2 separate regions of the Homo sapiens genome follow, and region 1 is reported to be linked to region 2. The links are microRNA targets in miRTarBase. Many come from high-throughput screens and were not tested one by one. Region 2 holds a microRNA gene; the other region holds the end of a gene's coding sequence.
The links. Region 2 holds the annotated microRNA hsa-miR-30c-2-3p (CUGGGAGAAGGCUGUUUACUCU, at 2,501-2,522, shown strand). A microRNA usually pairs through its seed, bases 2 to 8, with sites in the 3' UTR of a target mRNA and lowers its output. Matches are read on the target gene's strand: a 7mer-m8 pairs with bases 2 to 8, a 7mer-A1 pairs with bases 2 to 7 and ends in A, and an 8mer does both.

Region 1: miRTarBase lists ZNF708 as a target of hsa-miR-30c-2-3p. The part of its 3' UTR that is shown has no 7-base or 8-base seed match.

What each region holds. Positions count from the first base shown.
Region 1 is chr19:21,290,069-21,294,114 of GRCh38, reverse strand. It overlaps ZNF708 (zinc finger protein 708), which reads left to right. Exons shown (of 4, transcript NM_021269.3): 4 at 1-2,955. The coding sequence ends at 841. It also overlaps the pseudogene COX16P1. Among named protein-coding and RNA genes, the nearest start is that of ZNF708, 37 kb to the left of the region's middle.
Region 2 is chr6:71,374,946-71,379,485 of GRCh38, reverse strand. MIR30C2 (microRNA 30c-2) reads left to right here and starts at 2,455; the gene lies at 2,455-2,526.

The DNA of each region.
Region 1 (4,046 bases), not on the chromosome of region 2:
ATGTGGCAAAGCTTTTAAACAGTCCTCAAACCTTACTAATCACAAGAAAATTCATACTGGAGAGAAACCCTACAAATGTGGAGAATGTGGCAAAGCCTTTACCCTATCTTCACACCTTACTACACATAAGAGGATTCATACTGGTGAGAAACCCTACAAATGTGAAGAATGTGGCAAAGCTTTTAGTGTATTTTCAACCCTTACTAAACATAAGATAATTCATACTGAAGAGAAACCCTACAAATGTGAAGAATGTGGCAAAGCTTTTAACCGGTCCTCACACCTTACTAATCATAAGGTAATTCATACTGGAGAGAAACCCTACAAATGTGAAGAATGTGGTAAAGCCTTTACCAAGTCCTCAACTCTTACTTATCATAAGGTAATTCATACTGGAAAGAAACCCTACAAATGTGAAGAATGTGGTAAAGCCTTTAGTATATTCTCAATCCTTACTAAACATAAAGTAATTCATACTGAAGACAAACCCTACAAATGTGAAGAATGTGGCAAAACTTTTAACTACTCCTCAAATTTTACTAATCATAAAAAAATTCATACTGGAGAGAAACCCTATAAGTGTGAAGAATGTGGCAAAAGCTTTATTCTGTCCTCTCATCTTACTACACATAAGATAATTCATACTGGAGAGAAACCCTACAAATGTAAAGAATGTGGCAAAGCTTTTAACCAGTCCTCAACCCTTATGAAACATAAGATAATTCATACTGGAGAGAAACCCTACAAATGTGAAGAATGTGGCAAAGCCTTTAACCAGTCCCCAAACCTTACTAAACATAAGAGAATTCATACCAAAGAGAAACCCTACAAATGTAAATAATGTGTCAAATCCTTTAGTGTATTTTCAACTTTTATTAAAACACAAGATAATTCATACTGGAGAGAAATCCTACAAATGTGATAAATGTGGCAAAGCCTTTAACTGGCTCTTAATCCTTATGAAACAAAAGATAATTCATACTAGAGAGAAACCCTACAAATGTAAAGAATGTGGCAAAGCATTTAACTGGTCCCTAAATCTTACTAAACATAAAAAAACTTAAACTGGAGAGAAACTACAAAGCTGGAAGACATCACAGTAATTCTGACAACACCTCAAACTTTTCTAAACATAAAATAAATCATACTGGTGAGGAACTTTAAAAATGCGAAAAATGTGACAAAATCTTTAAATGATTGTCACACTTGATTGTAGGTAAGATAATTCTTACTAGAAAAACTCTTACAAGTGTGAAGAATGTGGCAAAATTTTTAATGAATACTCACACCTTATTGCCAGGAAAGCATTTATACTTGAGAAAAATTGTACCAATATAAAGACTGTGAAAAAGCCATTAATGTCTGCTCACATCTTACTCAACATCAGAGAGTACTTAAAAAAAGTATTATAAATTTAATTACTGTCAAAAAGTATTTCAGAAAATATAAGCTTTTAAAGTATTTATTTTGAAGACAAACATTACAAATAAAAGAGGATTGTAATACCTTTATTTGTATCACAGATCTTATTGTACACATTTTGTACTAGAGAAAACCCTGAAGCAGTTACTTAAACTTTGTTCAACATCAGGGAATTCAGATTGGAGAAAAACCCTGCAAATGTAATAAATTTGAAAAAAAAGTTTTCCAAAACTACAACTTAGACAACACCAGAGGGTTCATACTGAGATATATTTTTGCAGATGCAGTATATATTTAAAACATTTAATCCAAAATAAGTCTATGTAAATATCAGAGAATTCACAGTGGAAATATCTAAGGTAGGGCCGGGCATGGTGGCTCACGCCTGTAATGCCAGCACTTTGGGAGGCTGAGGTGGGCAGATCATGAGGTCAACAGATTGAGACCATCCTGGTCAACATGGTAAAACCCTGTCTCTACTAAAAATACAAAAATTAGCTGGGCGTGGCGGCACGTGCCTGTAGTCTCAGCTACTTGGGACGCTGAGGCAGGAAAATCCGTTGAACCCAGGAGGCAGAGGTTGTAGTGAGCCGAGATTGCACCACTGCACTCCAGCCGGGTGACAGAGTGAGACTCCATCTCAAAAACAAACAAACTAAGGTATGGATGCTTCAGACATTACACTATATCAAAGTGCTGACTGTTAAAAATGATCCCAAACTAACGGTAGATAAATTTATTTGTACATAACTTTAAAAGGAGTAGAAGATTTTTTGGAAGTTTGTAATTACATTCAAAGTATACTTTTTTTGTTTGTTTGTTTTCCTTGAGACAGAGTCTCTCTCTGTCGTCCAGGCTGGAGTGCAGTGGCACAATCTCAGCTCGCTGCAACCTCTGCCTCCTGGGTTCAAGCAATTCTCCTGCCTCAGCCTACTGAGTAGCTGAGATTACAGGTGCACACCACCACGTCCGGCTGACTTTTGTATTTTTAGTAGGGACGGGGTTTCACCATATTGGTCAGGGTAGTCTTGAACTCCTGACCTCATGCTCTGCCCAGCTTGGCTTCCCAAAGTGCTGTGATTACAGGCTTAAGCCACAGCGCCCGGCCCAAAGTGTTCTTTTTTCCTTGAAAAGAAGTACAGATTTTTTAAAAAGCTAATATTGCTGTGATTCAACTCTCTAGTTACTTGATGCTATTTCTTCATTTCTATTGTATTCACATGTGAAAGCATGTGATCAGTTGTCACGGCATCAAAGATAGGAGAGTTTCTTTTTTTTTAGGTGGGCATTATTTATGACCTTTTCTTTGGAAGAGTAAGGACATTAAAATGTAACATGCATGATGAAAATCTAAGTGGAGATGGTATTTGTGGTTAATTATGATATTGAGTGGTGCATGAGGTAGGTGTTTAGAGTAATATTCTTTTGCATTATAGTAAGAACATTTAAGTTTTGTTAAAATTAAAAAATTAGTACGTTATTTTACTATTTGTACTTTTATGTAATAAAATGCAGTACATTTTTAAATTTTCAGATGATGTGTGAACTTGTTTCATTATACATTTTTAACATGTTAATACTATTGTGCATTCAATGAAGCATTATTATGCCACTAACTGAAACCTATCCCATTTACTCAAAGGTGTAGGTAAATGATAGTAAGAATATACTATTTGGTAATGTAATCAACTAACATCTCTGGTAATCTCCTTTGCCAGTGGCTTTCAACTGCAAATAAGTTTAAAAAATACTGTTTCCGTAGGTTAAATTTTTATTATTTTTTCTTGTTGAAATCTGTTTAATTTTTTTTTTTTTTTTTGAGACAGTGTCTCGCTGTGTCCCCCAGGCTGGAGTGCAGTGGCACGATCTCGGCTCACTGCAAGCTCCGCCTCCCACATTCACGCCATTCTCCTTCCTCAGTGTCCTGAGTAGCTGGGACTACAGGCGCCCGCCAACACGCCCAGCTAATTTTTTGTATTTTTAGTAGAGACGGGGTTTCACCGTGTTAGCCAGGAGGGGCTCGATCTCCTGACCTCATGATCCGCCCATCTCGGCCTTCCAAAGTGCTGGGATTACAGGCGTGAGCCACTGCGCCTGGCCTAGATTTTTATACAACGTGTAGCAAATACAAAATTTGCTAGAGAATATATTTTAGAAATCAAAATTTTAGGAGTTCTAATGGTAAGTAAAGAATTTTAAATTTACTTTTCTGTAATGTAGTGTAACTTAATTTCTATGCAGAATCTTCTACTTTAAGAGTGAATGTTAAACATGGCAAAATAATAAAGTGACCTCTGTGAATTTGAAATTTGAGATAATATTTCTTTTCCATACTGATATTACAATTTGAAGAAATTTCCAGTTCATATAACTTTTTTTCAGTGGGTGAAGTTCAGTCTACAGTTTTTTTTTGTTTTTGAGAAAGAGTTTTGCTCTGTTGCCCAGGCTGGAGTGCAGTGGCCCAACCTCGGCTCACTGCAACCTCCGCCTCCCAGGTTCAAGTGATTCTCCTGCCTCAGCCTTCCAGGTAGCTAGGATTACAGGCATGCGCCACCACACCCAGCTAATTTTTGTATTTTTAGTAGAGACCAGGGTTTCCCCATATTGGGCAGGCTGGTCTCGAA
Region 2 (4,540 bases):
CATTTAAGGAGAGATTGCTTTCTCTTCTTAGCTATGAGTTCCTTAGAAAAGTAAAACAGCCTAACCTTGAATTTTGGGGGAATAAAAACAAAGTTTTAGAAACTGGTAAATATTTTTTATTTAGAGATTTTTAAAACCTGAATAATCATCTTAACATTGTTAACCCATTGTCAGGTGGTAGATGGCATCATTCATTCATTCATTCATTCATTCATCAAACCTTCACTGAGAACCTCCTTTAGTACCAGACAAACCCTGGATACATGTTGTGAATTTCTTCTGATGAAATGAAGTTAAGTTAAACGAAACATGGTGTTTCTTCCCTAGTAGAGAGATGGATAGGTAAACAAATAATTGTAATAAAGTATCAGTTCTGTGATCTAGGCATATGCAATTATGTGACCTAGGCACAGTATAATGGTGGTAAAAGGAAAAATGAACAATTCCTCCTCAGGTTGGGGGAGGGGTGTGGGTGTTAGGGATGACGCTGACCAGAGAGGATTCACAAGAGAGAATACTTGATTTGGGATTTGAAGACTGTATGGGCACTTGCCAGGTAGAAGAGTAAGCAGAAGTGCAGAAACAGAATAAAGAACAGGTTTGTGTGATTTAGTTCTTCAAGTGTTTTCACCCTTTCAGTTGTGACAGAATTCAGTATTCAATGAGCATGGGGTCATAACTTTGCAGCCCAGCCCATTCAAGTTATCATTCTTAGGGCTCTTTCCTTCTCCACTTCTCTTCCTATTCTTTCCCTCCTGCATGAAAGGCCTTATGAAGCCCAAGCCAGGCTTGTGAATTACCCATGACTTCTCCATCTCCACAGTGCCTCTCCCCTCAGCTACTCACTCACTGAATTCTGCTGTTCTTCTTGTCTTTATAATTTCTCATATTCATTTTCTCTGTGTTCTTACTGCCTCTTCCCTAATTAAGGCTCCCATGCTCTCCCTTACACTACTGCAGTGATTCTTTTCCTGTTTTCCTTACCTGCCACCTTAAAGCTAGAGTAAATTCTCTAAAGTACTGACATGGTCATCCCACTTGCCTGCTTACTATCTTTCACTCGTACCCATCGTTTGGAGATAATGCCCAAACCCTTTAACCTGGCACATAAGGACTCCCATCTTTCCCTTGTGTCTCTCCCCTTACCCTTCACCCACATGCATCTTTGACTCCACCTCTGCTGAATTCTTAAAGGCCTCAGCATACATTACCTTTGTCTTTCTTTCTCTATTGGATGACTGTTCTTTCTGGTACACTTTAAGCTACACTATCTTCTTCACTGCCCACCCCTTCCAAATTCCCATTAGCACCATCTTCACCTAGCTAATTTTATTCAGGCTTCAAGACTCAGCCTGGCTATTAGCCAACTCAGAAGTGTCTTTTGACCCATCATAACACTTATAGTAATGGTGTATGTGTCTGTCTTGCAAATTAAGCTGTGTCCTTCTCGAAGGTAGGGATGATACCCTTCATTTCTCATCACCTAGAATTTAAAACATTGCTGATATATGGCAGGCAGTCACAATTGTTTGTTGAATGAATGAATGAATGAATGAAATGAGTAAGATCCTGTAACAGTTTGGAATTATATGCCACCTGGGTTTACAGTGTAGTCTCTTATCAGGTAGGTTTGTTCTGAGATGTATAGTAATGATGACTTTCTTCTTCGCCCAAGTATTTTGTGTACCTTAGACCAGTTTAGCAAATGAAGTCCAAGAACTATTTGAATAAGTCATTCTTAGAAAATAACTTTAGGAAGCAACTGACTCCATTCATGTGTATGCCTCTAATTGTAGGTTCACTTCTGTCCGAATATGAATTTTTAAAATAATTTTAGCATTATATTAGCAATTTGCAATATACCATTTTTATGCATGTAAAGTTGTATTCTAACATATTTACTTTTTGCTCATTTGATTAAATTTATTACTGTGTATCCCATCATTAAGGTAACTAATTTTCAGTAATTAAACTGTTGGTCTTCTGTTTAGCCATTATTCTCAGTTCTGTGCAGGAGTGAGCTGAAACAAAGTTGTATAGCCCAGAGAGTGAGAAGCTGCATTTCATGTCTCCCAACAGTCAGAAAGGGATTATGTACTGTTTAAGGAAGGAGTTTGGCGAATATTTTGAAACCCTTTTGGGAAAGCATAGAATATTGAAAATCCAAAATTAACCAAATCCGTGAGTGTGCAAGCTCAAAGCTAGAGACCTTAGGAATATCTTAGGATGTGCAAAACAGGAAGAAAACAAGAACTGAGCAGGCAGCACTAAGTAAGTGTCATATAGCCTCCCCACCCACCCTTCCAACCCTACTCCTAAAAGAGCCATAATTTAGTCCCAAGTATACTTTTCTGATCTTTTCCTGTGACATATTATGGTATCTTCAAATGGTACTGGGTTTCCTGAGGCTTGTGCTGCTGACTGCCAACCCCATCCTAGAGAGCACTGAGCGACAGATACTGTAAACATCCTACACTCTCAGCTGTGGAAAGTAAGAAAGCTGGGAGAAGGCTGTTTACTCTTTCTGCCTTGGAAGTCAACTAAAGAGAAATGGATTTTGAATATTTCTATGTCTTAGAATTGATCCTATCCCGTGTTTGTTTCTGAGGTCAACTGTAAAAGGAAAAAAGGTGAATTGACTAAGTCATCCAAAGAAATGTAAGATAATCTATAATATCAGTTATATTTGAACTGTTTCACTTAGTTTAAAAAGAAAAAAAAGATTACCAAATACCCAAGTGACAAAAGTTCTGGTTAACTTGTATGAGGCTACATTTTGTGGGTTGCTGCAGTCTGATCTGTAAAAGCAACACATTACCTATACGTTAAGCTAAACATTTCTCCTTTAACCTGAGAGCATTCCACACTGAAGTCTGCTTTTCTTGAAGCAAAAATTCTAGTGTCCTTGGACTTGCTATTTTATCAGGGATCAAAGGCACCTTGGAGCCCCATGCTTTAGGAATTGTAATGGCAAACAATAAGGTCTGCTCTTTAAAGCTAGAATATAGTTACACATTTCAGGAAAAAATAGAATTGTTGTTGGAGGACGGGAGAGGAAGGAAAATGTAGAGGTAAGGGATGGGATGCAAGAAGTTAATTTTAAGAAAAATCTACAGAACGAACTCATAAGTTCAGCCTTAACCAGAAAAACTCTTTCATGTAAATCGTTTAAATCAAAGGTCTATTAAACATCTAATCTAGAATGTAACTTACCTGAAATTTGAGTCCATTGCTGATTTATTTAAAATTATTATGAAATAAGCCTTCTTGTTAAAGAGAATATTTAAATAAGGCATATTTTTATATAACAAGCCCTTAAGAAGTTAAATAATTAACTTAATGCTTCTATTAAAAATTAAACAAATCTGAACAAAATTACTCTAGTCTTGGCATATCAGCATATATCAGTCATTTAAACTAAAAGACACTCTACTACTTTAGAAGTATTAGAGGAGCTTTTAATTTTACCTCCGCACTGACTGTAGAGCCTAATACAATAGGAGTAATTGTTTCATATGAGTTTATAGAAAAAAAGTTTAAATACAATGACTTTAGCATGTGATTTCAGGGAAGTATTTGAACAGGCTGGCCTTGAAGCAGTGGTAGACACTGTTGAAGTGCCAGCTTGATTGAGTCATTTACCTTTTTAGGTTTGCCTACAGGCTTAAGAAAACCCTCTTTGAAACAATGCTCTACAGTCTTCTCAAAGAAATAATTGTTATAGATGTTTGAAATTTTGCTTTCTGCTAGGAGAGGCAGATAATATGGGTAAGGGGAAAAGCAACTCTAAGCAGCAGAGAATGATGCATATGCTTTGCCATAGCATTTTATTATTCTGCCTAAATTAAAAGGGGGGACATTCAAATATTCCAGATCTAAATTTATGGTTAACTTTTAGTCATGAATGTAGGTGTTTCAAAGCTTATTGAAATACATGCTGAAATTCATTCATCATTCAAGAATTATTTATTGAGCATCTACTATGTGAACTTCTAGGCACAGGGGATATAGCAGAGAACAGAAACAAAGTCCTTTTTCTCATGGAACTTACAAGAAAATATATAATGTGTCAAAATATAAACATCTTGTGTATCTATGTAAAATATCTAATTTTATTCAATCTTTTTATTGCCTTGTCCTCCAAAACCAAGTGTATTTAAATATTCCAGAATATTTCTTTCATTGACTATGGAAAACTTTGATATAAAGCTATATAATTTTGGTTTTTGTTTAGTATTATTCTTCTAGATATGTTCTAGTTGTTAACTAGCCTGTTTTGTGACATGAGTAAGTAGGATTATTAAGCATGCTTGAGAAGTTATATATATATATTTATATATTTATATATTTATATATATTTATATATATTTATATATATATTTATATATATTTTTATATATATTTATATATATTTATATATATATTTATATATATTTATATATATTTATATATATATTTATATATATTTACATATATTTATATATTTACATATATTTATATATATTTATATATATTTATATATGTTTATATATATTTATAT